Linked DNA regions of Homo sapiens: region 2 is linked to region 1. The links come from fine-mapping of genetic effects on gene expression. A gene starts in region 1. The other region holds a variant in brackets. All regions are shown on one strand. Distances are from middle to middle.

Region 1 (15,823 bases):
AAAAAATTTAACAGGATATTGCAATCTTTCTGCTTTAAAGTTTTCTTTGATTAAATTTGCCATTACAAAGAAAAGAACCTACCAAATGCTGTATCGACTGACTTCTTTGAAAGAATGCTTTATGTTTGTCCTAACACTACAATTAGAGAAAAATATGTTATTCTGCTCTAGTTCCTGTCAAGAGTGGACAGAGGAGGAACAGAAAATTGACCTTTGCTTACCTTAAATAGTAATACTAAATTTTTCTTATGCATTCTATATTAAATCTTTCTGTGTAATCTTAAAGCGATGCTACATAATGCAATATGTCTATCAATTATGATTAGCCTTACTTCCTTTTGGTTTATGCTTTTGGACTGTTAAAAAAAGGACGTAGTAAGGGGCTCAGGCAGACACAAATATCACATAAACCTTTTGAACAATCAGATAAATAACTAAAAACGGGTTTATCTCCTTGTTATAAGTGAGCACAAGTGACTAGAGGCATAAGGAAGTAAAACAACTCCAACAGGCCGTCAGAAAGTCACAGGTAGAAATTTGATTGTAATTGATTTTGCTGTTAATTCAATACTAAAGAATAAACAGCCATTAGAGACTGAGTCTAAAATGGTAAATATGTTAACTATTATAAATTTCTTCTAAAATGTAACCGATTATTTTAATGTACATTTAAAGCAATTTTGTAAGGAAATGAAGAAGAGCCAATATTTTCCTAGATCAGAATATACTAGCTATAGTTCTATGACATTGCCTTACCTAATCTTAAAATTATAAGTTTCAAAATATCTTGGAAAGGAGAAGAGGGTGCAAAAGTTTGTATTGTAGAAGAATATTCAAGAAGATTATGACAGGGTCAGAGTCACAGCTGGAGTAAGTTTGAGCAACTTTGTCCTCTTGCGCTCTCTAGTCTAACACAAAAATAAAATGATGGATGTTCATATTAGATTATCATTAAAATACTTTTCTTGCTATTCAAGAACTAACTTTCCACTTGTATCAACTATCAATTTTCTATAATTCATGGTGAGAGGAAAGGAACGTTAATGTAGATTATTTCAAATTCCTTTATTTTTTAAAATTTAATCGTAAAAATGATTTGCTTTCCTGATTGTGTTTAGTGTTAGTCAATGTCCAGAGAGGCTATCAGATTATTTACTCCTAAGCAGGAGAAAGTTGGGCTGAGGTTAGAAAAAAAAGTCATGGATAATTTCAGAAAGTAAAGAGATCCCTTACCGAATATTAGAGTATATAGTTTATTTCAGTGAGCACTTTCATGAATGTTTGTGCATACAGATACAGCACACTTTCATTAAAGAAAATGCAGTCTACAAATATTAGTGCTCTTTAGTCAACTCGTTCAAGCTTCTCTTTCAATGAATTTCAAGAATTCTTTTCTCACAACATAACTTCATCCAAACCACTATCCTTGAAGTGTCCCAGTCATATCAGAAAATCATAGAATCTGAATTTGTGTTAAACCATAGCTTCTTTTTAGAAACACATGCCAGAAAGTTTATCTACATTTAAAATATAACTATAAATATCACTATTCTAGTCACTTTTAAAAGAATTGCAAAATGCTACTGCATTGCATTCAAATTAAATTCATCTGCCCGTCTCAGAAAGACAAAACGAGAAGAATAAAATAAGCAATTACAAACACAAATCCAAAGGTTTTTCATTCACACAGAAAAATATGTGAATTGCAAAGCTTGATTTTTTTAGTAGTTTGGGTTTTTAAAATTTGTTTTGAAGGTGGTCCATAAAAGTCAACACCTCAAACTTTAGAGATAGTATCGAGAAATGGCATACTTCATCAAAATATATTTATTCACATGATATTGAAGATTTTGTTTGAAATTACTTTTAATTTAGAACATCTGAAACAGTATCCTTAGAAATTGACATATATATTAAAATGCATAAATATTTATATATTATGTAAATATACTAGTAACAGTCTGAAACTTAATTTAGCCTGTATACATATACAGCACATACATGCAGTACTTATTAGCAATAGCTGCAAATGAAAAGGCAAATTAAAACATTGATGCGAATAATTCAGCAGTTCATTTTTTGCTAATTCTGTATCAATCATCTGAATACTATCACTCTCAATTTCCTATGTCAGTTTCCATTATAACTCATACTGTGTTTTTGAAAGCCAACCTTAAATTGAGAAATGTAACACCTCTGGAGAACAGTGGATTTTCTCTCTCTAAATTTTTTCTAAAATTCAAAGCCACATTTTCTAGAAGTGATATTACAAATAATCCACCTTGCCTATGGAACAAGTAGAATTCCTGTAAATAAGAATGTTTATCTTTATATGAAATCAGGCAACTTTCAATAAAACTATAGAGCTCATATAGTCTCATTTTCACTTTTGTAGATTAACGAATTACTAAATTTATTCAAGAATTTCTTCTGCAGTGGCAATATTTAATTCTCTATCCTGAAAAATTAAAATAGGCTATTTTCAACATCCATTTAAGAGAAAGAACACCAAGGACTGAGTTTCCAATCTGCCTACTTGAAGCTGCATCCTAGAGCTTCTTCCTCCTGTATCCCTGAAAGGAATATATTTCAACATCATCTGTCAAGTATAAAGGGAATTGGGGGAAATAAAACTTATTAGGTCTTAGGATGATACTACATGATTAGCTAATTTGATTAGTTGACACATTAATTCCAATATTTTCAATCATATTTACTATTGTGATGCATAAAAATTCAGCTCAGCTACCTTTCTATTCTAGAGTTTTTCTCTACAAAAGGAAATAACATCTTCCCTGTAATAGCCTTTCTAATTTCCATTTCATTTCTGAAAATAATAATACTAAGAATGTTGGTGACCACATAACTATAGAATAAAAAAGATAAAGAGACTCATAAGTATCCAAAGAATTATTCTTTTCACTTCAAAGAGAAAATATTTTACTATTTGTTTCTTCATAACAGTACATACTTTAGATCATTCGTTAAAGAAGAATACACAAAATAAAATTTTCACATTTGCCAGCTAGCCTCCTGCTATTCAACCCAGTATTTTATTTTGTTTTACCTTCATCTTGAATATGTTAACAATTTTTTTCACAAGCCTAATGTCAAATTTTAACAATCTAGGATTCCAGTTAAGTAAATATAATAAAATATATTCCATAGAACTGCTATGTTATGAAAGGCATATAAGAAATTCAACTCATTTGTGAAATAAATAAATAAATTCTCAATTTAAGGCGATGTAAGTAGACTTCCAAACTCTTTAAGAAGCATAATTAAGTAGCTATTTGGAGAGGTAGCACCACAAAAACATATTTTATACCGATTTATATACAGATACAGTATTAAAACATAAAGAAGAAGCTAGGTTCTGGGATGCATCCCTCAGTCTCCCCTGTGTAACGCTAAGGCTAATGAAACGACGCATGTAACTGATTTTCTGACAGAGGAACATCAGGTATGTTGGCCCAATAGTGGAACAGAAACAAAAAGCGCTTTACAAAAATTCCCAGAAAATACATAGATTAGAATGGAAAGGAACCTCAGGACTATTGAGGTTTCCTTCCCTGTGTCCTTGGGGGAACTACACATTAAGCTTTCTTCAACTGGGAACATGAAATTTGAAGTCAGTAGCATTAGAGGAGTCATGATTTGGATTGAGAGCACCCATTCTTTCTAATCCCTGTTCCATTTCATGACAGACTTCTAAGAAACTGTTAGGACCATTGCTATTGAAAATCCTGGGGTGACTCGCAGGAGAGAAAAAGCGAAGGAAAGTGGTCACATAAGCGCGTAGGCATGTGCACGTGTGTGAGGATGTGCAACGGTTATGTTTGCCTGAACGTATATGTACTTTCTTATTTTTCCTGAGACCTTAAAAAAAATCTGATTGCTGATTTTGTAATCCCTTGAAAGGATAGCTGAAACGGTTCACACTTCAAAGCTCTGGGAAGAGTTCTGGAACTGCAAAACTAGCAAAACTGCAAAATTGTCCCCGTGAGAGGGCAGTAGGGGGCCAAGCCCGGGTCTTGTCTCTCTGTCCATCCCAGAATGGCTCGGCCCTCTCAACCAACCTTCAGCCGGCTGGCTGCGCTGTGGACAGGGGCGGCGGAGGACACCGAGAGCGCGCAAAACAGCAGCATCAGTCGGTTCCAAGGAAACTCGGATCTCTGGGGCGTGGGCCGCTGCCAGGGGTTGACACTTGTGTTGTGCGAGGTGCGTGTGCCATTGGTAAAATGGCTTTCTCAGTTTTGGCTTCCCACAAAAGGAGCGGAAGGGGGAGCTGTCATGATTCCCAGTGCCCACAGAGCCCCCTCTCCTGGCCACAGCGCGCCAGCCACAACTGGTACCGAGTGTGCGCGCTCGTCTCTGTGCGTGTCTATTTGTATAACAGTTTGCAAGTGGCTTTCAATCTATCTGTCTGTATGACAGAGACAGAGGCGCCTGCGGAAAGTTCCCTCTCTCAAAAACGCCTTCAGTGTCCTGCTGTATCGCTGGCGCCTACGACGCTGTCATTGTCATCTCATCATTTTGCTTCCTTCCGGGTGATTTATGTACAATTCTGCGTGAGTGAGAAATGCGCGTCTACTGGAGTTGTTTTGTCTGTGACCTTACTTCTTTGAAGAGAGTAAGTGGTTGGAAGGGAAGGAGACCCTGAAAAGGAGTAATGTCCCCTCCAGATTGTAAAATATAATGGTTAAACGCCCAGTATCTCAATGTCTAGACTGAAATCCCTCTCTGCCACTTATACTAGCTGTGTGCCTTGGGCAAATCGTTAATCAATCCGTGCCTCAATTACTTCATTAGCAGAATGGGAAAGCAACAGCATCTAGCTCACAGAGTTGTGAAGATTAAATGAGTGAATATGTAAAACGCTTAGAACTGTGCCTGGCACGTTATTAGGTGCTATAGGTTAAATGCTATTAACATCTTCATCAGTTGCATCACAGTGTTAAATGGAAGGACCATCCTGACCACTTTCTCCACAGGAAAGCACTAGATCTTGATATGTGCCCACGCCCCAGAGCAAAGGCGAGACAGAATCCTAACCCTTTGACTCCGTGCAGTGCAGGACCAGCAGCCACCCAGACACCCCCCGCCCACGCAGACCCTGTTCGGTGAATCCCTCCCCAGCCGCCTGTTCTCTGTATCTGGGGCCACGCTCCGAATGTTGCAAGATGCAATGGCAAACCGCTAGCCCAAGAGAGCTGGCCCCTGCCTCTTCTGTCTGAAGAATGTGTTTGGGGGTTTTCCTACCTGCCCCAGGTTTTTGCCCTTCTTACTGCCGCCGAATGCCAGTCCTTGGTACATGCCCGCAGATCGATTGGCGGCCTGACCAGGCGTCTCCCCGCCCAGAGAGGACTTGATGGAGTTGAGTTTGGCCCGCGAACTGCCGATCTGTGAGCTCTCCACCATCAGCACCGCGGCCAGTAGGAGCAGGCAGCAGGACGAATCCTTGCTCCGCATCAACGCGGCCATCTCCCGGCGAGGGGGTCCCCAGGAAGACGCAAAGCCCGGAGGGGTGGGAATGCAAAGGGAGGGAGGACCCCAACACGGGGCCCCTCACTTGGGTCGCGGGGGCTTGCAGATTGTGTTCCCTCAACCCTTCCTGGTTCGGGGACCCAGGACCCTATGAACTCAGTCTCACGCCTCAGGACAGAAATTAGCGGAACCCAAGCGAGACCCGCTTCTCCACCAGGACAGGAAGTTCTGCAATAACTGGAAGCAATCAAATGCGAGGCGCTTTCTCGCCAAGGAGGCGTGACCCAAGGTGCAAGAAAACCCAGCCCTGTGGATCGCACCGCTTCCGTTCCTTCTTGCCCCGCACCTCCTTGGTCCCGCCGGGATCTCGGCGGTTTAACTCTCCTCTTAATTGATCAGGAGGCCCGCATCAGCTCCTTCTCCTTCAACTCAGTTGCTTTTCTCTCCTCTCTTTTCCTATCCTTTATGTGTCAAACTTTGCAGGACACAGTGCTCCTTTTCAAAGTTAGCAGGCGCTTTAGTAGGGGATCAGGAGACGTCCCCGGACCGAATCCTCGAGATCTGAAGAGAATCGAGGTCCCCCACACGCGCACTCACAGTTGCCCCGAAGCGTTGTCCCCTGACTCACAAGAGACAGCGAATCGCTGCCAGCGCAGCGATGCCTAGGGAGCGGACTTGCGCTACGCTCGCCGCGGGCTCCCGCTTTCTCTCTCTCTGCTCTCTCCCCAGTCCTCTTTGCTTTTTATAGCTTCCCACAGTGAGGACTTTTTTTTTTTTTTTACCTCCGCCCCCAATTCAAGAGTGACAAAGAGTGAAAATTTTTCTCTCACTCCCCACCGCTTCCGCCCCCCTCCTCTCTGCGTGCTGCTTCTGCTTCTGCGGCTTTCACTCCAGCTTTTCCTCCTCCTCATCCTCCCGCTCTGTCTCCACCCACAACTACTGGAAAAGGGGGATCTAGCTTTTCCATGAGGTGAATGGAACATAGGGGCTCCTAATTCCTGACAACAACTCCAGCGGTTGGAGGGGTCTTTGGAAACTGGCAGAGACCAAAGGTGGAAACGGAGTGGGGCAAGCTGACACCACTTGATCGCTGCCACCCTTTCTTAGATCTTCCCACCCATCTTCAGCCCCTGACTCCGCGAGGAGAGCTGGAAAAGCCCTATGGAAGCTTTAGAGAAGTGAGCATCTGCGCATCTGCTCATTAGTATTGTGTTCTTTGTGAGCTCACGTTTGGTTTTAGACTGTGCCTCCCAGGGAGTGTGTGAAGCTGGAGCCACATAGGTGCGCCAGGGGGTGGCCAATGATCCGGATAGAGGGTCTGGAAGGAAAGGGGCAGACCAAAGAGGGGAAAAGATGAGCCTGTTCGATTTGGGTCTTTTTAGTCTCCTCCTTCGGAACCCCGGGCCCCGCCGCACTCGTAGAATATGTCTATGTCTCTGAGGGACTGGGAAGAAGGGGATGCTCTGGGTACGCTCCAAGGGTTTGGACCTCACAGCTCGAATGAGCATCTTTACCATGCCAGGCAACTGCTCTTTTTGCGAATAGGAAATCCCAGATAGGAATGAACGGGGGCAGGGAGCCTTTGAGATCCTGTCTTCCTTGGCTTCCTGCCTTCTAGCCCCAGTGAATTACAAGAGAAGCCATTCCTGTCAGCCCCCGGGTCTCTCCAGGTCCAATTCCCTTCGGCCGAAGGTCGAAGGCTGCTCCGGGAACGACTGGGACGCGCTGGCGCTTGGGGGCGCCAGTGGCAGCCGTTCAGCGAGCCACGGAATTGCTGCAGGAGACAAGCGCTGAGTTCGGTGATGTCTGGTGGCCAAGTGCGAGACTTTCCAAGCAAAGCAAGGGATTGTTCGAAAGTTATTGCATTTCTGCTTCGCAGACACTAATGTCCAGGAGCAGAGAAATCCAAGCATTGAGCCACAACTTGAAGTTAGAAGGCAGCTAGCCGCCAGGGGAGGATACAAGCAGCATCCTCTTCAGAATTTTTGGACCTAGATTTCACAGCTTTCACACCTGATCCTGGCGCATGTCCATGAGTACGAATTAAACTTGTCGCTAAGTGAGAACGTTGGTGACTCTTATTTTCCCCCAAAACAACGCAGAGTTCTAAAGTGTGGATTTAGAGCTATTTTCTCCCAGACAGCTCCAGTTTTGCAAATTTCTCAGTCCTGACCTATGAGTCTGTCTGCCCTGAAATTCTTCATTTTCAGATTTTTTTTTTAATACACAAGGAAACGGGGATTAAAATATGCACCCTCTGGCATGTGTTCTTATCTTTTGAATTTCCTTTCTTTAAGGTAGAGATTTTTCACATTTTAGTGTGTGGGGTTTTTTTTCCACTTTTTAAAAATATGCCAGGAATAACAATATGGGTGACCCCTGAAGGACATCATACTAAGTGAACTCGACCAATCACAGAAAGACAAATCCACTTATAGGAGGTACCTAAAATAGTTAAATGCATAGAATCAAAGGTTGGAATGATGGTTACCAGGAATTGGAAGGAGAGGAGAATGGGGAGTTACTATATCAATGATCATAAAGTTTCAGTTAACTAAGATGAATAAACTCTAGAGATTTGTCATATGGTATTGTACCTATAGCCAACAATAATGCATTGTATTTTTAAAAACTTATTGAGAAGGTAGATCTCATGCTATATAGATATAAATTTTATATGTGTGTGACTTTATATACATGTATAATATATATATGTATTTATACATATAACATGATTGTAGTAAGAACATTTAACATCTATATATGCCCAGTAATAAATTTGTAAGTTTATAAAGTTAAGTGAGGCATTCTAGGCACTAATAAAAGGCAAGGAAATGGGTCGTTACTCTATAAATAAGTACTTAACGATTCCAAGCTTAGACTTTACAGAAGAGTATATCTTTTGCCTTCATTCTGATTTGCCAATCAGAAAGCATGACAGAAATTGAGAAACTTAAGTTAGGAGTATACTGGTTTAAATATTTTTGAAAAGTAGCTTAGAGCAAAAGGAAAAGATAGAAGCTAAACATGTAGGCAACAGATCACTCTACATTCACTTGGAAGGGTGTAGACTTTGACCATATGTTGAAGAACAAACCCAAATGAACCATGAGAAAATGTGAAGATGCTTTGCCTATTTCTGTCACTTCCTTCTTTCTTTACCTCTAAATAAAATAATATCCCACATACACAGGCCTAACTTTACTCACATGTACTGCTAAACAGAAAACATATATCAAGCACAACACATTTACTCTCAGCTCTGAGTACCATCCTAAACACATTATCTCAGAGGCTTATTCAAACCCCGCAAGTTCCAAAAGCAATTTTTTACAAATACAGTTAAATTAAAAGTCGACATAAAATCTACTTACACAAACATTCTTCCATATAGAACAAAATCAGACATATAGAATCAAAAGCTAAAACATACACAATTACGCCTTAGGCTAAAAAGCAGTCAAAAACTAATTTCATTCATGACCCAAATGCTTTGTGTAAATTTTTTTTGACAGACAGAAACAAACATACATGACCCATATGTTGACAAGTAGATATGCACACACAAAATCAACTAACTGTAAATAAACATAATCCTGTGGATTACTGTCATGGCCCCATATGTGTTTTTCCTGTGTGTGTTTTCCTAAGTGTAAAGACAAAAGCTTCATATTTTACTTGGGAAAGTAGATTTTTATGCCATTTGCAATAATATAATTAGAGAGTAGATATTTAAAAACAAGACTGTACAAAAGCAGGATGTACAACCTTCCTGTCCAGAAGAAAGTGCCTTAATGGACATTTTTTCCTTTGGCCATACATTCCCTCTTATCTTTGCTCCTCTAGCTGTGGGGCCATTTTGGTTCCATAGAAAAGCCACTACTTTCTCAGCAGTTGTTTCTGGATCCTGGATTCCTTCTGAATACTTAATCCCAAAGGTAAGTTAAGTATATAACTTGTTACCTTAGTCTTGTTTACTGAAGCTTACTAATTTTCATCCCATTACCTCTCTCCCTGCATTAGTGAATATTTCCTACAATAGCCTTTTTAGCAGTTGTTCATGCATTCCCCGTACGTGAAGCAAGTATGGGGCCCTGAGGACACAGAGGTGAATGAATGGGGGTCTTGCCTCTAAAGGGGCTTGGAGCTCTGTAGACACCTTAATATACTAAAATCTGCTCCTAGCCCCTCTCAGAAGTTGCTGCTGTGAGCCTTTATTCTCATCCACTGCTGAATTATGCCAGTCTCAGAGTTCAATCTGTCACAGGATAGCTGCAACTTGAATTCAAGCCAAGCTGGCTTGAATTCATGTGACTATGGGAATATAAGTGATCAGATATGTCCCCCAGAGTTCTTTTTTTCCTTCAGAATTAAATGCACATTTTAATGGTGTACATAGAGACAATACTTCTACATTTGTCGTTGAACCCAAAGAAATGACCCTAGTGATGGTCATGTTAGGTCAATAAGAACAGAATAGCAAACCTGGGAAGTAAGATTGTCTTTGGTAGGTCCCACAGGACCGCAAAGCATCTTGCACACACAGAATAGACATGAAAATCTTTAATGTATGGTTGAAACTTGATGGATGTTAAGGATCTGAAAAATAAGGTTATATGGGTTTTCCCTCTCCATAGTAAACCAAGCTACCTGGCTCTGTAGCCTAGTAATACTCATACTTTGAGAGTTTTATGTTTCTCCTCTGCCTAAGAACAACAGTCTTATGTGTTGCTGCAAATTAATTCTAAATACCTGGTAACAAATGTAAGCTTGCATTGATATTGTGAAAATTTTTTGTGTTTCTTGATGGGAATAATTTTCATACCAGATATGAAAAAATTGCATCTCCTATTTGATCCCTGCATTAGTTTCAGTTGTTGATGCTATCTTGATAAGGTCTCATGGACAACAGGACCAGCTAATAAAAAAGATCTCATCACCTACATTTGATTCACTAGCTATGCTTACAAAAACATGCACAAGTGAAATGGGTCAGAAGATTTCACAGTAAATCAATCTGAAACAATTGCTCAGCCAACGGCTTCTTTTTCGAACCTTAACGAGTTAGTCATCTTATCCATACTTCACCTGCCACTTAAATGAAAGAGGATTACTGAACAGATATTACCCCTTGAGCCTGAACCCAAACAATAAAAAAAATGCAAATAACATAATCTGAAACTCAGGCAGATAAAAACTTCTGCTGAGCCTTGTGCATATATGTGACCATAGATGGAGGTGGAATTAGAAAAAGTCATCAAATGTTTAATAAGAAACATTTTCCTTTACGATATAAAATTTTTGTTAGTTCTGTACAATGCATATCCTTTTTGGTAAGTTCTCACTGCTGAGTTCTGGCAGGTTTTTTCAAGATTCAGCTTTTGAATCAGTACTAAAGTACCAAGTAATACTTGGCAGTGAAAGAATCATATGTTTAATTCTTGAGTGAGGTTCAATTCCAAGGAATCTCATCTTGATGAGCAACAAAACAAACAACATTTAGATAATCTGGACCAGTGATTTTCAGACTCTGTTCCTTTCGGGTCTCTAGGGTTCTGCAGTGGTCTCAAAGTAAGTTGAGAACTGTGCTAATTTTTATAATATTTCAGAGGAGAGGTGTCCAGCTCTTGGATCAAAGATAAATTTTAAGTGCCTGTTTTTGTTATTGTTTTATTGGACAAAATACTCTGTGAGCCGTCAACCCACCAAATACATGATGGATTGATTTCTACCCTGTTAGTATTACAGACAATTTCCAAAATGAACATTACTCAAATGGGGAAACTATTAAAAATATGGCAATTTATTTAGTCAGAAATGATTTGGTCATTTAAAGTAGGGAACATTAAAAATGAAAAGGCAGGGTAGCTAATCCATTCATTGTACAATGTGTTTATTCCTGATCAATTATCTGAACCTATGATTAATGAATATGGCAAAACTTTAACTATACTCTTACCACACATAAAATAAACTGTGGTGCAGACTAAAAATAATGGAAAAACTACTTGCAAATAATAAAGACATAGATTCTCAAGAGGCAACTCAAAAATCTGTCTTTGAAACATAACTGGGCTTGGTAACAGAAAATGAAAAATGTGCTTAGTTTATCTTTGGAAGATTCATTTGTAATAGATCCTACTTTTTGATGCTCTAGGTATAAATCATAATACCTAGGCTCAAAAATAGTTTGGGATATAAGAAAGTCAAGACACTATGCTGCAGTCAGCTTAAGGAATTTTATAGGTAACTGGCTTAGAATATACAGCAATAATAAAAGTAATAATAATAGTCAGATTTATTGAATGCCTTACATGTGCCAGGTTTGTTGAACACTTTACATATAGTGTCTCTTATTTGTATCCCACAATTCATCCCTTTAAGACAATGAATGTACAGTCCAATATTAAAATAATACTGAGCAAAGAGTAGCTTGCAGCACAGTGTGTCTCCATTTGTAGTAACGAATGCCCAGTTATGGCAATAATGTGGAAGGCACACAAGAAAAGGGGAACCCATCAGAAGAAATTGGAGGTGCCATTTCACCCTTGTAGCAGGCCCCAACACAGATTCCTCTGAAGGAGCTAAAATAAGTCATTTGGTAAACGGTTGCAAAGAACACCAAAAATATAAGTACATGACTACATGTATTGAAGCTTTGCCTAATATAGTAAAACTCTTGGGCCTTAAAAATCATATAGCAGAGAACTTAAAAAGGCCCTCTGCTACAGATGGCATATTAGATTTCTAGGGATTCCATAACAAAATGATACAGATTTAGTGGCTGAAACAACAGAAATGCATTTCCTTACCATTTAGGAGGCCACAAGTCTAAGATCGAGGTGTTGGTAGGTTTGGGCTCCTCTGAGGCTGCTCTCCTTGTCTCACAGATCACCACTTTCTCACCGTGTCCTCCTGTGGTCATCCCTACGTCTGTGTTCAAATTTCCTCTTCTTATAAAGAAACCAGTCATATTGGATTAGGACCTACCCTAATTTCATTTTAATTTAATTGCCTCTTTAAAGAACTCATCTCCAAATGTGGTTACATTTTGAAGTAGTAGGACTTAGGGCTTCAACATATGAACTTGGCAGCAGGGCGTGGGGCAAAATTCAGCTCATAACAGATAGATTTATACATGTAGTTGCATATTAAAACACTTGGGAAAAGAGTAACATTTCTGTACACAAGACATACAGCAGTTTCTCAGAGTTCCTAAACTCAAAGGAGAACTGTGTTATATGTTTATTTTGAAAACATTATTTAAATATTTTTATTACCATTTTATTTCTGGATCTGTGTTAATGATATTCATTTTTTCACCTTCTCTTTTTGTGTGACTTATGGCTAAATTAGAAATCAGCCAACTGAGTCTGACTGTGATTGTCAATATTCCACTGGGGCCCTGAAAAGGAAAAGAGAGAATGCAAGCAATTTGCCAAGAAGATAAAGTCATTTCTACATTTTTTATAAATGCCTGGTTAATGAAAGATGGAAACAATAAAACATATCAGTACATGATAGAAAAGTGAAATCATGGTAGATCAAAGGAAAAGGAAGCAGCAAACAAAACTACAGTGATCTAGCAATCAGCAAGTTGTTCTGTTACTAACTTAATTTGTCCATTTATTTAATTTGATTTGTTTAATTTACTCAGAAAGTTAATAGTTCCTTGGAATCACAGTACCTTTAATTAATTCAAGGCAGTGCTAAATATGTGAAAACAGAGGGGATATCTAATTTCATTGAAACTGGTAATGAAATCACTTTTAATATAAGTGCACTTGACCACTTAGTCTTTAAGTTATTAAGAAATCTGATTTGGAATAAGCTCAAATTTACTTTAGCTTTTTGTTGTTTTTTTCTGAAATTTATAAAATGTATTTTGGTTGTTATTGTCAAGAATGTATGTGAACATTTGTATATATCAAAGAACAATCAATATCTCCAAGAACATAACAGCTGTTTATATGTTACAGTTGAAATTGTTGGGTTAGCCTTGTCCTCCAATGCCAATCAATGTTGTATTTTTAAATTAATAATAAAATGAAACTCTCAAACCTTTGATCAATTTGCCTTTTATATATCAAAATGTATTGTATAAATATGCTCAGTATTAACAGAAGTACTGAAAGTTTAAAACCATCTTTTTGTTTTATAATATTCAATGTACCTCACCCCACCACTTAACACTGGAGGTAGCTACCACTGAGGCCAGGAATATATGGACTATAGCTATAAACTGGGGCTCTTTTTAACATGAAAAGGTAAGCTAATTTCCAGCCTTCTAAATACAACTTCCAAATTCACTAAATTACTTCGTGTTCCTCCTATATGTTAGCATAATTTTAGAAGGTAATTCATTAGAAAAGCCCCCAGCTGCAAGTTCTAACCAAAAGTTATACATGTTATAGTCCAAACTCTTCATTCTCTTTAGCCAAGTGTAGATACTGCCTAAGATGGCTGATTTTAAATTAATTTGTATGATGATATCTGTCACTCACTTGTGAAACACTTCCTGAATATAGCTGACACAATCATACCCAATTTTCTGTTTCAGGGACTATTTAATGTTAAAAATGTCTCTAAGGAAATCATTCTAAGGAATGCCTCTAAGTAAATCTTTATATGTGGGGGATGGAAAAGACAACCCATCATGGTATTATTCTCTGACAACAAAAGAATTCCTGTTAATGGTTAGTAATGGTTATTATTGTTTGTTTTAAGTAGTGATCTTATAGTGATTATTAGTCGGAAATACTGAGAGGTCCAAGTTCATGCAGCAGAGGGCAGTAATGGACACTTGTCATGGTAAGAGAGATGAGCCAGAGATTATTACAAAGTAATTTTTCTGGAGAAAAGTGTTTAATGGCCTTTCCTATACCAGTGTTATTAAATAGAGGAGAACTGATAAATAAATGCATCTATTCCTCTCATGAAAAGTTTGCAACACTCTTCAAATATTAGATTGACTGAACTAAAAAAACATTCAGAAGGTTTTCTCTTATCTAACTTCATAGAAAAGGAACGATTTTCCTATGCCAAGGCATATGCAGATGTTGCCCATGTAGCATTGTAAAAGCTCTTCCAAACTACTCAGAAACAGAGGCAGGTAGGCAACTTTGTAAATGGTCTCATGACTGTGCAGAATGCATTGGAAATTAACAGCACCTTTTTCATCTTACTTACTACCACTTTATTATCTGTCTTTCTCTCACTACCTGAAAAAAATGCAACAAAATCCAAGGACTTCCATCTTTACCTTCCTTTAGTTGCTGTACTGCCTACTACGCTAACGATGTTAGCAATGTTTTGTCTTTGTTCTTTCAAAAATTACTTCAGCAAGCTGTTTCTTTCTTCAATCACATTATCCCGAATTTACACCTTGTTCCACCGCTTGAAATAAACCATCAAATAAAGCAGACCCAAAACAATGGTAGGAGGTGAGGATGTTATTCAAAATTTTCATAGGTAAAAATTTGAAGGTAGAATCTGGGAATACATGATGGCATAGTTTTTCTAACTCATGCGGTGCTATGTAAAACCAGAAAAAGAGATGAGGATAACAATTCCCCAAAATGCACATACGAGCACACACCACACACACACACACACACACACACACACACACACACACACATCTAGAGTAAAATTAGGTGACAAGGTGAGTAAGCCTAATTCCCAATAATTACAAGGCCCACATAATATCAGTTACTATAAAAAAGGAAGTTTGGGCTGGGTGCGGTAGCTTAGGCATGTAATCCTAGCACTTTGGGAGGCCAAGGCAGGCAGATCACTTTAGGTCATGAGTTCAAAACCAGCCTGGCCAACAAGGTGAAATCCCGTCTCTACTAAAAATACAAAAAAAAAAAAAATTAGCAGAGTGTGGTGGCGGGCGCCTGTAATCCCAGCTGCTTGGGAGGCTGAGGCAGGAGAATCACTCAAACCCAGGAAGTGGAGGGTTGCAGTGAGCCAACATCATGCCACTGCACTCTCCAGCCTGGGTGACAGAGTGAGACTCCATTTAAAAAAAAAAGGAAGTTTGAGGGAAAGCAATGGAGCTCTGAGAACAAGAGAATCCTCAAATTTCCAACAGATCCTCATTGGAAAGAGCACAGCCAATCTGAAAATAGTAGACAAAATCAGAAGAAAATGGATTCTGCAGGCCCTAATTCCAGGATCAAAGCCCCTGGTGAGGAGAAATTGTTTGGAGTAGAATCCAAATTGAGCAGGCTAAGAAATTAGGGACAAAAGAAAAAATTCTAAATGAAAGTCAGGATGGAGAGGAAGCAGATCTCAAAAATGTGACACCATTTTAAGCATCACCTCATAAAAA
Region 2 (15,823 bases), 160 kb after region 1:
GTGAAAAATACAGGATTGCTTATAATTTGATTTCTGATTGCATGGGTATAATATTATAGGTAACAGCTTTTTGTAAGAAATTTGTATGGAACTCAAACATCCGTAAATCTCAATAATACTATATATTGCTTACTATATTGTGCAATGAAATTTGATAACTATAAAAAAAGCAAACTCAATTATTATTTTAGTGTTAGCATTACTACTGAATTTTTATTATTTTTATTAAGTAAACCCATAATATATAAAGTAAATATTAGTCTTTTGCTAGTCAGACTATTTAATTTAGCCAGAATATTTTATTCTTTAGCCATTTGGTTATGTAAGAGATTACTGAAACACAAAACTAACAAGAAATTAGTCAACTGTTTATTCCTTCATTCCTAACAAAATGGAAAGCTTTTAGTTTAATACAAGTTAACAATTATTTTTGAGTCTCTATTATGTGTTCAACATTGCTCTAGAAAGAAACATTGGTCACCGAAAACAGTTCTTGAAATACCAGTTCTTGAAAACAGCTCTTGAAATACTATGTTTGGAAATACTGAGCTATTTGGCATTTGTTGGAAATCGGTGACTATATGCTCAGGCAAAAAGTCTTAGAACTTGTATTGGAATAAACTCAGAATAAAATTTACAGTGGTGAGATCTTTACAAAAATATATTCAATGTATTAAAAATTCTGTAGGCATTATTATTTTATGTGTACTGTGCAATATTTGTTTCTAATTATATAACAATGAAAGACAGCATTCTATTGGTAGGTCCTACTTCTATTCTCAGCAGAAGAAAGTGAATAGCTGAGATGGCCTACTGCTTTCAGTAAAGACCCTCAGACCACACCACTTGAAACTGATTTCAAAGAAGCTTCCCCTGTTCTCAGATCACACCATCTTGTTTTTTCCTGCTGGAGGCTAGTCTTTCATCAATCAATTAGAGGATTTTAAAGCTACACTTAAATTTTAAAGCTACATTTAAAATTGCGCCTATTGGGCAACTTGGCCCAAATTTAGCACTTCTTCACCTTGCTTTTGCAGTTGTTCACTTCCTCTCAGGAGTTGTATCACATTCCTTTGCAGACAGAGACTATATCTATTTATTCACTTATCTCATTAAAGCCTAAAACAGTGCTTTGCATATAGAAAGTACTCAAATACTTTGTGAATAACTTAATAAATTATTAAATAAAATAAAAATAGGTAATCACTAGGAAATATTTTTCTGCATAATATTATTCTATAGTTTAGTGACTTAAAAGAACAATTTATTTAGCCCATGAGTCTGCTGGTACAATTTATGCCAGACTCAGCTAAGTGATCTTGGCTTGCACAAGCATCTATAGTCAACTAGCAGGCCAGGGAGATGGACTGATTGGCTGGTACAGGGAGATAGCTAGGACAGTTCAGCTTTGCTCCACATGGTCCCTTATTCTCCATCACAACAGCCTGCGTTTGTTATCATGCAGGGGCAGGATTCCAAGAAAGAAGGGCAGAATTATGCAAGGCCATTGGAAGTCCAGGCTCAGAACTCAGTACAGTCACTTCCACAGCATTCTATTGGCTAAAGAAAGTCATGAGGACAGCCCAGATTCAAACTGTGGGGAAATAGGCTCCACTTCATGATGACAGGAGCTTCAAAATTTTATTGCAGAATGTGTGCATACATGGAGGAGTGAAGATTTAGATACATTTTTTTTGCAACCAATTTTTTGCAGGAGTTTTTTACTTGCTGGTCTTTGTTTTTACTGAGAATCTCACAAAAGAAAAGGTAACCATAACTCTAACTGTAACAAAAGGGAAGGACTTATAATATATATTATATATTATACTGGAACAAAAGGTATGAGCTACAGTTCTTCTTGCCTAAAAGAATATGATGTCCCCTTTGTAGAGAAGTTGTTCTTTCTAAGGATCCAGCCCCAACAATAGAAAGAAAATAGATAAGCTAATTGGCTAGATTTCCTCTCTGCCTAGTATTCCTCATTCTATGAAAGGTTTTATTATTGCTTTAGGACGTTCATAAGTTCAGGGACTGACACCTACACAGTGCTAGAAAGAGGCAAAGGTTCAGCCAAGGTCATCTGCTCATCAAGTCTCCCTGCCCTCCACTTGGAGTTGGACTTTTTAGTGGGACACTGGAATGGAGTTTAAACAAGCCAGGTTATAAAAGAAAAATAGGAAGAGAATAAATATCTGCATGGTGATAAAATAAAAGCTTCAGTCGAATTATATTTAAAGGAGTTTAATTGAGCAATGAATGATTCACAAATCGGGGAGACTTTCAAGCCAGAGTAGGCTCCGGACTCCAGCGCAGCCATGTGGTAGAAGAAGATTTATGGACAGAAATAGGAAAGTGATGTACAGAAAAAGGAAGTGAGGTACAAAAACAGCTGGATTAATTACAGGTTGGGGTTTGCCTTATTTGAACACAGTTTGAGCAGTTGGCTACATTTGATTGGCCAAAACTCGATGATTGGCACAAGTGTAGGCTACGGCCTGTTTACACCTCTACTTGTTCTAGTTCACAGTGTACAGAAAAACCTTTAGGCCACACTTAAAACATGTAAGGAGGCAGCTTTAGGCTAAACTTGATTGAACAATGGTTTGTACCTGCATACCCTTCAAGATTCATCTGAACCATGTTTACACACTTCTTGAATATTCCATGCTGCTTTCTGCAACAGGGTCTCATAGCCCATATTGCTCTCTATGCCTGGAAAGTTATCCTCTCTACCCACTTCATCTGGTTAACTTCCATTCTTCCTTTAAATGTTGTAGCTCAGACAATCCTTCCTTGACCCAAAACTATATGAAAGTTGTTCTGCTAGATGTTTTCTTAGAACATTCTTTCCTTTCATCATATTTATCTCCGTTTGTACAATTGTGTGATTATTTGATTGAGATCTATCTCTCTCACAGACTAAAGGCTTCATGAGGGCAGGGGCAATTCCGGTTTTCCTCTCCCTTGTATTTCTGTTGCTCACACAGTGCTTACCTCATAGCGGTTGTTTGCCAAATGTGGGTTGGTTAATGAGTGAATGCGTGCAGAGTTAATAAGTAACTAACTGTGAGTTTTTTAAGCAGGAGAAAAGTTATTTTAACATTTCTAAATTATGCACATTAAATATTAAATAAAGCCTGGGAAATCAGGTGTCTCTGTTTCCAGAGGGATGATACAGTTTAAACAGACTCTGCTATGTTTTTTCCCAATGTGCTTCCAGATTGGGGCCAACGAATTGCCCAGATTGGAGAAAGAGTAGTTCTGTCTTGGCGATCACCTATACTCAGGCTCTAGCTTCTTCATGAATCAGTGCCAGGTGTAGTGGTGCTTTTTGCAATGCACACATCTTTCCTATGAGGTCATTACTGATGGAAACCATCAACACCTCTGTCCCTGGGGGAGAGCAAGAAGTCAACTCCATTCAAATAAGCATTCCTCGAACTCCTGCTTAAGAAACACTCGCCAGCTCCTACCGCAGATGTTTTAGTTTGAAGGACAGGATAAAGGATGACACTGAGGGGTGAAAATCGGAACAAACCCATTACAGATGCATTGGGAAGGAAACTATGGAAGAGTTTCCATGTGTCATAATAGTATCCTTATCATCCTTCCACTTAATTTAGTCAAGCAATAGAATAATGTTCCAAGTAGGTGCCAATCTATTCTGGGCAGATATCAAAAAGTGGTCACTTATTTCATCTCCCATAGAATAGACTTACTAGACGGTAAAATTCCTTCTTAGCATGCTAGTGCTATATTAGTTTTCAAGGCTAGTTTATTTTGCAAGAATAATCATTGTGTAGTTCTAGATATTATTGTTGTTGCTCAATACAGACTGATGGTAAGCAAATGGATGTATAGACCAAATGGATGTATAGATTAGATAATGCAAAATGCATGGCCAATAAGAGGAGAATTCATTATGGAAAATATGACCAAGGAACACATTTCTTTGACTATCTAGCTATCTTGATTTCTTAAGTAGGACGTTTATGATGGACCAAGGTAGCCTGCCTAAACACGGGTTTTAATAAGTCAGTATGAAAGAAACATCTGTCTTCATTCAACAAACATTTGCTGACATACTAGGAGCCATGCTCTGCCTAGGACCTAAAATCTTATAGGACATTTCCTAATCATAAAGAGTTTAGAGTCTTGCAGAGTTGTTTGTCAAGTGATGGGTGAGAGGGTGGCTAATTGGGAAAAAGGAGTGACAATGAAGATGAGGTATTACTTGAAGCATAGGAACAAATTATGTTCAGCTACGAAATTTCAAGAATATGAACATAATTGGAGTGTTTATGAGAAGGAAAAGGCTCATATTACTGCAAGTGATTTTCAAGAAGCTGAAAAAGAAAAGCTGGCATTTTGGAGAATGGAGACTCAGAAACCTTCAGAGGAAGCCTTTGAAGTTTTAGTGAGTGGGGTTCTGGTTGTTTCCATAGCAAGGCTCAGGGAGTTGGGTAGGTTATGAAGACAGCATCAGGAGACAGACATCTCACCCACTCCTGAAACTCAACCACTCAGAAAGGTTATAACCCACGGAAAGTCAAAAGACACTATAAGTGTTTCTGCTGGGACAGAAAACTGGACTCAAATAGGTAGAAAATATAATTCTTTCCAATTAATATTTTCAAACAACGTAAGAGTAGCAAAATATCATATTCTAAGGGATGCAAGGCAAATGTGAATGGGAAGTGAGAAAGTAAGCATGAATGCACAAGGAAGGGAGTGCTAACTCCCGTTCAAGAGAAAAGTCATACCACAGTGACAGGCCTGCTGTGCAAAAGCCCATTTAGCAAGAACAGCCCAGACCTTTCTTTCAATTTTATCAGAAGCCACTGATCCTAAAGTATCACTGGCGCCTACTGAATTTTCACCAGGGACCTAACAGAAAACATCTGTTCTCTTACTTAAAACTAAATCAATTGATTAAATCAACGTTTGCTTGCTCTCTTCTATTAGAAGCATAGCTATTTCTCTTTTTCTTCTCTCCTGACTCCTTTAGCAAGTTACTTCTGCTTATGAGTTAAAATCTGGGATAAAGGTGTGTCTCCTTCTGTGCCTACATGGGGAAAGTTACCACAGGTCAAGCTGAAATTATGTCACAAATTCATGGATGTAAACAATTTGGTAATATTTTATATGTAAATCGAAAGCCTACATAACCACATAAAATAACCTCTAGCAGCAAATACGTGTGTGTGTACACAAAATTCTCACTGCCTTGAGAAAACCTCAGCCATAAATATGAAACTCTTCATTTTAAATTTGGTCTTCATGTTTAAACTCCTTTTATAGTTTTTGTAAAGGAGATTCCATGAATGATTTAGGCCTGGTTTTAGTTGAAGCTTTCGAACTTAAAATTGGAATCTTTGTTATAAAACTTCTGTGATTAGGACCCACATTGTCTTATATATTTTTCTGAGTCAATAGGATTACCCTACTCTATTGATCACTGCCCACTAAACAACAAGATCCATATGAAGCAGGACCTCAGAAAACAAGAATACAATAGCAGCCAACTGTGCAGCATGGATGTAGTTGTCACAGAACAAACTCTTATCTGGCATCTACCATGTGCCAAGCACTGTTCTAGACCCAGGGTATACATGGAGAAATGTCATAGTGATTGCCATAAAGAGTCTCACAATCTAACAGAGAAAAGAAATAAACCTCCAGTCATAATATCCTGAGATAAATGTTGTGCTGGGGGATATATATAGTGACCCAAGATAACAGAGGCAGGGGGAATAACTCTGCCTTTAGAGAAAGCGGAGGGGGACTCAGGGAAGATTCCACAGAGGCAGTAAGATTTGAGCTGGGCCTCACAAAGGATAAGCTCCAATGCCCATATATTTCTCTGGCGTATTTCTAATTTCTGTAAACTTGGCAAGTTGTTTCACTGCTCTGTTCCTGAGAGTATTCATCAACTAACCGAGGGAATTAGCAGTAAGTCACATGTTTAAAAGACAAGTTGGTAAAGGGGGTGAGAGGGATGTGAAGCTGCAGTTAGGGCTAGGGTGAGAGGGATGAGAAAAACAGGAGTAAGGAGAAAATATGGAAGGATGGTATCCTTAGAAAGGAGAAAAACAAAAGAGAAACGGTTCCACATGCATTTTACCTTTTTTTCCCTTTGCCACCTTGAATTTATAGGCAGCATCGAAATCATTGAATGGGAAAATGAAATAACATAAATAGTAATAATCCTCTTCATCTCCATCAATTAATAGGGTATATAATAAATGTGATATTTTTAAAATGAGGGGAAAGTTATTAAGGCTCAGAAAATCGACATATTATGACAGGAAGGGGCCATAAATATCAGGTTAGTAA[G/A]CATACAAGAACAGCAACTAGAGGCCTCTAAAGAAATTAGGTGAATAACACTTAATCCATATGGTCACTGTGGGAGTTAAATAAAATATCTATGTACAAGACAAAGAACATTGCCTGGCACCGATTTAGCATGCAGCAGATAATTATTTTTATTGTTGTCATCCGTCACCATCTGAAAATATAGCAAATGAGAAGGGAAAGGCCCTGTCCAACCTCACAGTCATCTGTAAAGACAAACTGGAGGTGGCTAGTGAAACAGGAAGAGAACAAATGTAGAAATTTTACTGGGGCTACCTCACTATTCCTAATACCCTAAAGCAGATCCTAACTGAATATGTGACTCTAAGGAGGCTCTAGGGGTTATCCACCACCCTAAGATCTTGACCTGGCAACATCTTTCAATAGATGTCGTGATAAGATAATAAAGAACGAAAACAATTTAGAAAGAAATGTGCCGAGAAAAGTCCACAGAAGGGAAAAATAGGAAGAGGCAAAGTGAAGAAAAACATATGAAACTTGTCAACTTTTCTACCTATGGCTATATGCTGGCCAACTGTTAGGAACATTGGTGCTAACAGGGATAACACATCATAGTGATTCCTGCCCAGAAATAATATAAAACACAATGCAGAGGCATGCTGGCTTCATTTGCTGCAGGATCTTGGAACTAAAACAGGAGGGAAAATAGTTGTTCCCCTCCCTGGAATGTCCCCAGACTAGTCTGTGGTGAGTTTACCACTGCCCTGGCACCTATCACAGGACCTTTGGTCATCTCTGCAGGGTGTGGGCTGATACTCGACATGACCACAGCTAAACATGGGGATGCACATGACAGAGGGAAAGTAAATGAAAAGGATTTTGTTTTTCACATCAGTGTCTGAGGTGAACAGGCCAGACCAAGAATGAGATACAGTATTATAATCTGACAACGAAATACAGAAAGCTCAAAACTTGGGGTGCCATCAAAGCCATGCACAGTAGGAGAGAAACTTCAGATACATAATTGATGCATGGAACTGGAAACAACCAAAAAGCTATTCCAAGTTTCTGAAAAGCAGCCAAATCACAATATCTTGAGACATTCAGAAAGTTCCTAATGAAGCCTCATCCAAAAGCAACGTCTAAAACATGTGTTCTAGTAATTTGGTGATTTATTCAACCAGCACCTATTAGGGACCTATCACACACCCAACGTGCTGCTCAGTTCTGACAGATGAGTTCCTGCCTTGTAGGAACTTATACTCAGGTGTAGGGGATAAGAGACACATTCCTCAGCCTTCATGGTTTGAGTGCAGATTATATTGAGATGAAGTGATGTGGTAGGGTGCACCCCTTAGGAAAGAAAAGTTGGCATTCAGAAACAAAACAACGTAAAGGGCTATATGTGCAGCTGAATGGCTCAAGGAAAACCACCTAGGAAAGGAAAATGTGTGTTCTCTCTGTTCTCTGCTATGTTAAATAGCCATTAGACTGTCCTCTATTTCAAAATATTGAAACACTATAGAAAATTGCTGGGTAAATACAGAACTTGTAAAAGGAATTTGCAACCATCCACACCCCTGGAAATATGGGACTCTGTTTCCGGGTTGTGACGGTTATATAAATTATTTTCTTTCTCACTGACTTTCAGGTTCACTAGGAAATGGTGAGCTAACAGCACTAAGAATTATCTTCAGGAGAAATAATCCTTCCTAACAGAGCCTGTATACGTGTTATCTAGATAGGTACATTTGTCAGAAACTTGGGTAGAGGTTATTCTATCTCTCCTCCAAATTTAATTCTTGAATCTGATTCTCTGTTCCATTTATCTTCAAGAAAAAAAAATAAAAACCATGTGATTACAAAGGCAAAGACTTGATGAACAACGGAAATGAGATAAAAAGTATTCCTCCAGAAAGTAAAAATACCAAGAAATGGTTTTTATTCCTGTGTATTTGTACAAGCTAAACGATGGTCTAGATGAGGAGAAAGTGTCTCTAGGAAGATTGGCAACGGAATGAACTGACGTATTCTGAGAAAAATAATAGAAGATAGGCTGATGAAAGTTCAGATCCCAGCACAGGCAAAAAGTGTGGAAAGGGAGGAAATAAAGAGGCCTATGGATACTTCTAAGACAAATAGTTTTATTTTAAAACTCTAGTCAAAATACCTTGGTGCAGACAGGAAAACAACTTTTGAGAATTACATAAATAACAAAGATTTGAAATTGGAAAAAAAAATTTACAGCACACAGACTCCCTAAAATATAATTATGTATTGCTTAACAATGGGGATACAGTCTGAGAAATGTATCATTAGGTGATTTTGTCATTGTGTGAACATCATAGAGTGTACTTACATAATCCTAGGCTATATGGTATAGCCTACTGCTCCTAGGCTAAGAGCCTGTATAGCATGCTACTGAACTGAATACTGCAGGCATCTGTAACACAGTGGTAAGTACTTGTGTATCTACACACAGAAAAGGTGCAGTAAAAACACAGTATTATAATCTTATGGGATCCCCGTCATGCATGCAGTCCCTTGTTGACCAAAACATCATTATGTGGTATGTAACTGCATTTATAAGTTCCATATACATATGGTCTGTATTCAAGCTGAAAATATTACTTAAATTGTTCCTCTATAGGAAATAGAAGAAAAAAAGTCTGAAAGCCCCCTATGATAAAGTAAAAAAACATTTTTTAAATGAGGTCAACATTTTTTGCCCCCATCAACACCCAGCATATCATCAGAATTTATATTCTTTATACTAAAATTTCTGGGAAACAATAGAATGCCACAAGCCGGGAGATTATATTTCTTATTTGTTTTTTGGAATATGGAAATACACATGCACGTATGTGCACATGCATGTGTGCACACATGCACAACCAATTGGTAATAGGCACAGATGGTGTGGGGATGAAAGATTCTAAGCTGGATCTTTGTGGGTTTGGAGTTTGGGAAATAGCCTAAGAGATTAGGGTGGAGGTAGAAAGCTCCTCAAGGATCTTTATTCATGATTGGAATCCCAGAATTCCATGAGCCTTAAAAATCATCTAATGCAGTTATTCTAAAATCATGCTCTAAGGAAACCCAGGATGTCAAGAATATGCCTCAGTGATCTACAAACAAGTAAATGTCTGCCTTACAAACAAACAAAAAAATACCCTGTAAACTACCTAAAAATGTATTCATCACTTTTAACTATTTTTATATTTTAATGTTCAAAATTATCCATTTAGTCCAACTGTCTCATTTGACAGGTCAAGAAACTTAGAACAATCAAATAACCTTCTCAACGTCTCAAACTAGTTAGTGTATAGTTAGGATCATGTATTAGTTTGAGTTCTTCTCAAAGCAAATCTCAAGACAGACTTGGGTTCAGGTAGCTTCTTTAAGAAGTGACCCTCAGAAATCTGAAGGAGAGAATAGGGAAAGTGAGACAAGGAAGAAAAAATTCAATAAAGATATATGAATGAATGGACTACTACTGTGGCAACTAGGGCTCAGTCTTGCTGGGGAGCTACTGAGAAACCTTGTGGAGTAGGCCTCTGAATTTTCCCACCCAGGAATTGGATGACTGTGTTTCCATCCACTATGTCCCATTCCACGTGGATAGAGGGTTGCCCTTGGCGACCTTAACTCCCCTGCACTTCTGAGCCACAGGGTAAGCTCCCAAGGCTCTAGTGAAAGCCCTCAGATGAGTAGTGGAGAGCCGCCCTACTTGAGGCAAGAATCAGCTTGCAGGAAACTATTCATCACAGATGCAGGTAAGCTCAGGTGGGCCCAGGGGCAATGGGGCAAGGCATCCACAGCATCCATAGCACTTGAACCCAGGACTTCTTACTCCCAAAGCCTTGTTTCACTGATATAACACTAAAGGAATGTGTTTATACTGAAAAGGGTTCTATTCTTCATCAGGCACCTGCCTTCCTGATGAGCTAGTTTCAAACACACAGCAACCAAAGCCACCACTACTTTCCAGGACGCCACAGAATAAGAGCCATTTCACATATACCTTATACAGATGAATTTACTCTATTTCAACTTCAATTGAATGCTTCTCTAAAAGAGGGATCTAGGATTTCATCAAATGAAAGGGAACTAGATGATAACAGGGATCCAGCCAGGATTTTTCTTCAAAAGGAATATTGTTCTATGACAGAGCCAAGGCAAAGACATTCTGAGAGATTCCTAAGGAGTACACGGAGCTGAAAAGCTGATGTGAGATGTGAATAAGTTTAGCCTGTGAATTGGACCTAAGGACGTAATAGAGAACATGCTGGTAAGCCACAGTTATTAGGGATGAAAAAGTAAAGTAGAAGGCAGGGTGATGAGCTGAGAAGGCCCCTAGTGATGAGAATGACACAGATAGCTGTCATTTCCTTTTCTCACTTTATTTAAGATACTGATTATTTTACCATGGTTGATGAAGATGCCAAAATATAAGCACACAGACATTTTTCAGTCCCTAACCCACTAACAATTTTGTATCTTCCCCTGCAAGATTTTGGAATACTTTTCATAATTAAAAGAAATCTTGGAAATATCTTCTATTTTCCACAGTGAATTGTTTAAAATAAGATTTGGGTTTAAGTGGGCATAATTTTTTATTAATAGTACTCTGCTGACACTTAAATATTGTAAAGGAATGAGATTCATAAGATCCTCTTCTTCAATAATCTAAATCATTTTAGGTTATGGAAGATTCTTGTATTCTTAATAAATATAGATTTATGGTACTGTTATCCCCATATATAAACTTGTTTATGAATATCTGGATTCACCTGCACACCCACTGATATGGTTTGGCTGTGTCCCCACCCAAATTTCAACTTGAATTGTAGCTCCCAGAATTCCCATGTGTTGTGAGAGGGACCCAGGGGTAGGGTCGCTAACGTCATAAGTGCTTCTCTTATAGAACCCCTTCTTACTGAACAATTGAATCATGGAGGCCAGTCTTTCCTATGCTATGTTCGTGATAGTGAATAAGTCTCATGAGATCTGATGGGTTTATCAGGGGTTTCCACTTTTGCTTCTTCCTCATTTTTCTCTTGCCACCACTATGTTAGGAAGTGCCTTTTGCCTCTCACCATGATTCTGAGGCCTCTCCAGCCATGTGGAACTGTAAGTCCAATTAAACCTCTTTTCTTTCCCAGTTTCAGGTATGTCTTTATCAGCAGTGCGAAAATGGACTGATACACCCACATAGCAAAAACTATCACAGAAGCTGCAAGGAGGAGAAATATTTACTCTATGCCAGACAATGTACCATGAAGTCTACATATTTCCTGAATTCAAATAACTCATTGATATTATTTCCAACTCATTGAAACACATTGATCAGCAGCTTAAATATTAGAAGGCACAATGATAGACTCTACAATAGATACATAAATGGATCAGGAATAATCCATGTCCTCAAGGAAGCTATAGCCTAGTAAAAACAAAAATCACTTTAATATAAGATACAGTATGTTTTGTCATTGAAGTGTTGTAAGTAAATGGCATAGGAGTTCAACTATAAAACTTTGGTGACATGAAATGAGACCCTAATCCTGTGGTGGAGTGTGGTAAAGCCAAAAAAAATCACATAAAGCCTTGGAAAACTTGCACCTACATTCAAAATTCTCTGCAGTTGTGAATTGATAAATTTGATTTGTTCTCTGGAAGACTGCTTAAGTCCTGCCACTATTTGGCTTTACACACTTGACTTTCTGTTTACCCCTATAGTTCTATATCTTTCTTGTCTTTTAGATTTAAAAAAATAAAAATACGTTAAGGTCTGAAGAACAGGCTTGAGATAGGTCCAATTCCTTTTAGGTTCACAAATATCTCTTGTCTTCCTTAGCATAAGTCACGGAGAGCACTTATCTAAGTTTGGTGTGTTTTAGGCTAAAAAGGCACACACTCTGCACCAATAGACTGTATTCAGGAGCAGAGGTAGATAAAAATTATCTGTTTTGTTAAAGTACTACACGCCTAGAGTAATATTTATTTTGCATTCTTCTCCCATGAAAATTTTTCCTAAAGAAATACTCCAAATAGTTCAAATGAAAGGGATTTCAAAAATGCCAATTAATCAAACTGAAAGTTTCTTAAACTTTCTGGTGGAAAACAACTAAAGAATATACACATTTGAAAATGCTTTTCATAATGGGAAAGGAAATAAAACATAAGAATTAACATATAGTATACTAAGCATTTTTCATGCATCACTTTTTCCAATCCTTATAGCAACCCTGTGAAATAGTTACTGTTATAAGTACCATTATACAAAAAGAGAAACTGAGACTTTGAAAAAAAATAAGTCATTGGCGAATATTATGGGAAGTTGGGATTTGAGCCTAGATCTTGCTGATTGTAAGTTTGTAAACTTAACTACTGCTAACAGTTTCAGAATCCATTCATGTTTTCTGGTTAGTAAGCTTGAGAAATAAGACCTGTGGTAATAGATACATATGCACAATATTAATTTGTATCTCAATGAGCATGATTGAGATTAATGATTATTAGATCAAAATATGATGCCACCTTAATCATAAACCATGTTTTGTATGGTTTAATCCACATTCATATGGAGTAATTGATCCTGAAAATTAGTAAGGCTTTATAGTAATTGTTTTTCTATAATTCCTATAGAGAGAAGGGGAAATCAGTGACAGAAAATATGTAACCTGAAATATTTTGGGGCTATAAGAACTATTTTTCCTGTATAACTGCCAATGACTTCATGTTTATACGAAGAGTGTAAATATTCAGAAAATCCAGGGACCCACCATGATTCATTTCTTAACCTGCAAGCACTTTAATAATAGGCACCTAAAACTTTTCCACAATGTGAATAAGAACATCTTGCAGTTACTACCTTGTATAGAGCTCACGTAAACAGAAACTGCTACTCAAATATTTTATCAAAACACTGTCTTTGTCCTTTGATCACACACACCCCACCCAGCACACCCACAACTAAACAGAATACTTCATTAGAGGAAACACATGAGTTCTGTTCAAAATCTCAGCAAAAGTTGGCCAACTAATTTTTAGAAAATTCACTGTGAAATCAAAAAGACTTATCCAAAGAGCTGAGATGTCGCACCCATTCCATTATACAATGTTACCTCATGAAAATGGGCTGATAAATCAGCCCACGAGTTAAATGGCAACGCTTCATTCAGGAGGCTGTTCTGCTTCACGCATCTGACAACTACTTGGCAAGTGTCTGCATCTCCTAACTGCAGAAGCTACAGTCTTCTGAAAGACGAAGGTCTTTACACAGTTTAGTGTTCGGTGTTCTTGGCACACGAATGCAGTGTAGTTCAGAAGGTATTTTGGCAACTCTTAATCTGAGCAAGAATGGGGCTTTTGAAAAATAAGAATTTAAGAAGTCTTGTCATTTTAGGGCTAAATTTTAATAGAATATGAGTCTGAACTCTTACATTTAGAACAAACAAAACCTTAAACTTACCGATTGGTTCAAAATGGTTTTCTGGAAAAATTAATCTGTAACAAAAAGTTGGCATTGAGTGTGAAGGTTCCACCGTTTTTTGAGCAAAGTGTACAAAGATTCCAATGGACAGGACCAAGAACGAGGGGCTCAGACATTTACAACAGCAGGCATTTTCTCTTCCTCTTCTTCACGGGAGGTGGGCAGAGGACTGCTTGGATCTCTTTGTCAAACACTGTTGAGGCCTCGCTGTGTGAGTGCCGAGCACTTCAGGTATTTTACAGCACCAATCTCCTTAGTGATGGCTAGACCCTGCAGATAGGTGATGGGAGTCAGCTTCTTCTCCTTCAGTTTCTCAGTCGTGTCTGTATCATCCCTAAGTTCAAGTTTAGTTCCCACTAGGATGATGGGAGTGTTGGGACAGTGGTGCTCCACCTCAGGATACCACTTTGCACGGACTTTTTCAAATGATGCAGGACTCACAAGGGAAAAGCAAATTAAGAACACATCTGTTTGCGGATAGGGTAGGGGGCATAATCTGTCATAATCTTCTTGAGCAACTGTATCCCATAAGCCCAAATTCACCGGTTTTCCATCTACCACAACATTGGCAGAATAATTGTCAAAGACAGTAGGGATATATTCTCCAGGAAATGCATTGGTTGTGTAACTGATCAGTAGGAAGTTTCACCTACAGCTCCGTCTCCCACCACCACACCCTTGATGGCCTGCATCTGGGCCGCTCGCTGGGCCGCAGGGGCAGCAGCAGGGCGCTGAGACCAGAAGCGGCGGGTACAAGGAATAAAAGTGTCAAGGGTAAAACCTCTAAAAGGTTAATTTCTGTCAAATGCAGTAGATGATTAAAGAAAGGTTGGTATTATCAGGAAGTGTTTACTTAAGCTTTTCCTTTCTCTTACATCAGCCATCCCCCCCCAAATTGGGCATTTAATTCATCTTTAAACTGGTCGTTCCCTTAGTCTCTAACTTAGTAAGTGCTTTTCTTATAGAACCCTTTCTTAATGAGCAATATGCCTCCTTGTATTATGAAATCTTTCTCATAATGCATTAGAAGGTTTTTTTGTAGATTGGTAAAAGTGCTTTCCATGTTACTTTATTCAAAGCTAATAAGTGCTTTCCTTAGTTTTCCAGTAACTAGGTGTAAAAATCATGTGTTGCAATTTTATAGTTTTTAAAATATTTTAGATAATTCTTAAACTATGAACCTTCTTAACATCGCTGTCTTGCCAGATTACTGACACTGTCACTTGACCAATACTGACCCTCTTTACCTCACCCGCATGTGGACATATGCTTCCTTGTAGTTGCTTAGTCTAATGATGTTCCTTTGGGTTTGTGAGGTTCTGTAAACTGTGCTGGTGCTGACGATGTTCTATACAACTTAACTCACTGGCAAGAGTACAAGGGAGGACCTTTCAACCACTAGAACAAAAATTTTTAAGTTGACAGTTGCAGAATTGTGGAGTGTTTTTACGTTGATCTTTTGCTAATGCAATTAGCAGTGTGTTTTGCATGTATGACCTAATAAATCCCTGAATCATTAAAAAAAGCTGCCACTCAAATATTTTGAGCTGCTTTGTGAAGAAATGTCCAACTTAAGGTAGAATGATAATATCAAAAAGTACTAAAAAAGTAGAAGTTATTGACTACAAAAAAATATAGTAAGTTCCTTCAAAGAAAGAGTGTTGAAGCACAATGCTCAACCCTTAACAAATATGCTTTTTAAATTTATGCTCAGCGGGGTGTGTGTGTGTGTGCGCGTGTGCCTGTGCACACACTTTCTTATTTCATTTAAGTGCGATATTCGAAATATTTAGTAACTGGCAGGGCACAGATACCAACTAAGTTAAATAGAGCCCCCTCCTGTAACAGGAGCTCTGGAGGGCCTTGCTTTGCTAGGTGTTGACAATTTAATGTTGGAATGAAGAACAGGGAAGGTGCTGGGGGTCCTATGGAGGATGCCTGAGCCGGTTGAGCTGGAAGGGTTGGGTCAGCAAGGAGCTACTCAGGGAGTTGGAGCAGCAGCTGTTTATAATT

Direction of the effects. Alleles are on the strand shown, and positions count from the first base shown. SD is a standard deviation of normalised expression in the study named.
As copies of A replace G in region 2, the expression in cerebellar hemisphere of the gene that starts at base 6,206 in region 1 goes down (small effect, 0.36 SD a copy in GTEx).

The links. PIP is the estimated chance that this variant, and not a neighbour inherited with it, causes the effect.
Region 2: its variant is fine-mapped to the expression of DKK2 in cerebellar hemisphere (GTEx, PIP 0.96).

The regions. Positions count from the first base shown.
Region 1 is chr4:107,030,108-107,045,930 of GRCh38, forward strand. It overlaps DKK2 (dickkopf Wnt signaling pathway inhibitor 2), which reads right to left and starts at 6,206. Exons shown (of 4, transcript NM_014421.3): 1 at 5,263-6,206. The coding sequence starts at 5,484.
Region 2 is chr4:107,189,423-107,205,245 of GRCh38, forward strand. It overlaps the pseudogene RAC1P5. Among named protein-coding and RNA genes, the nearest start is that of DKK2, 160 kb to the left of the region's middle. The variant G/A (reference allele first, on the strand shown) is at 6,337.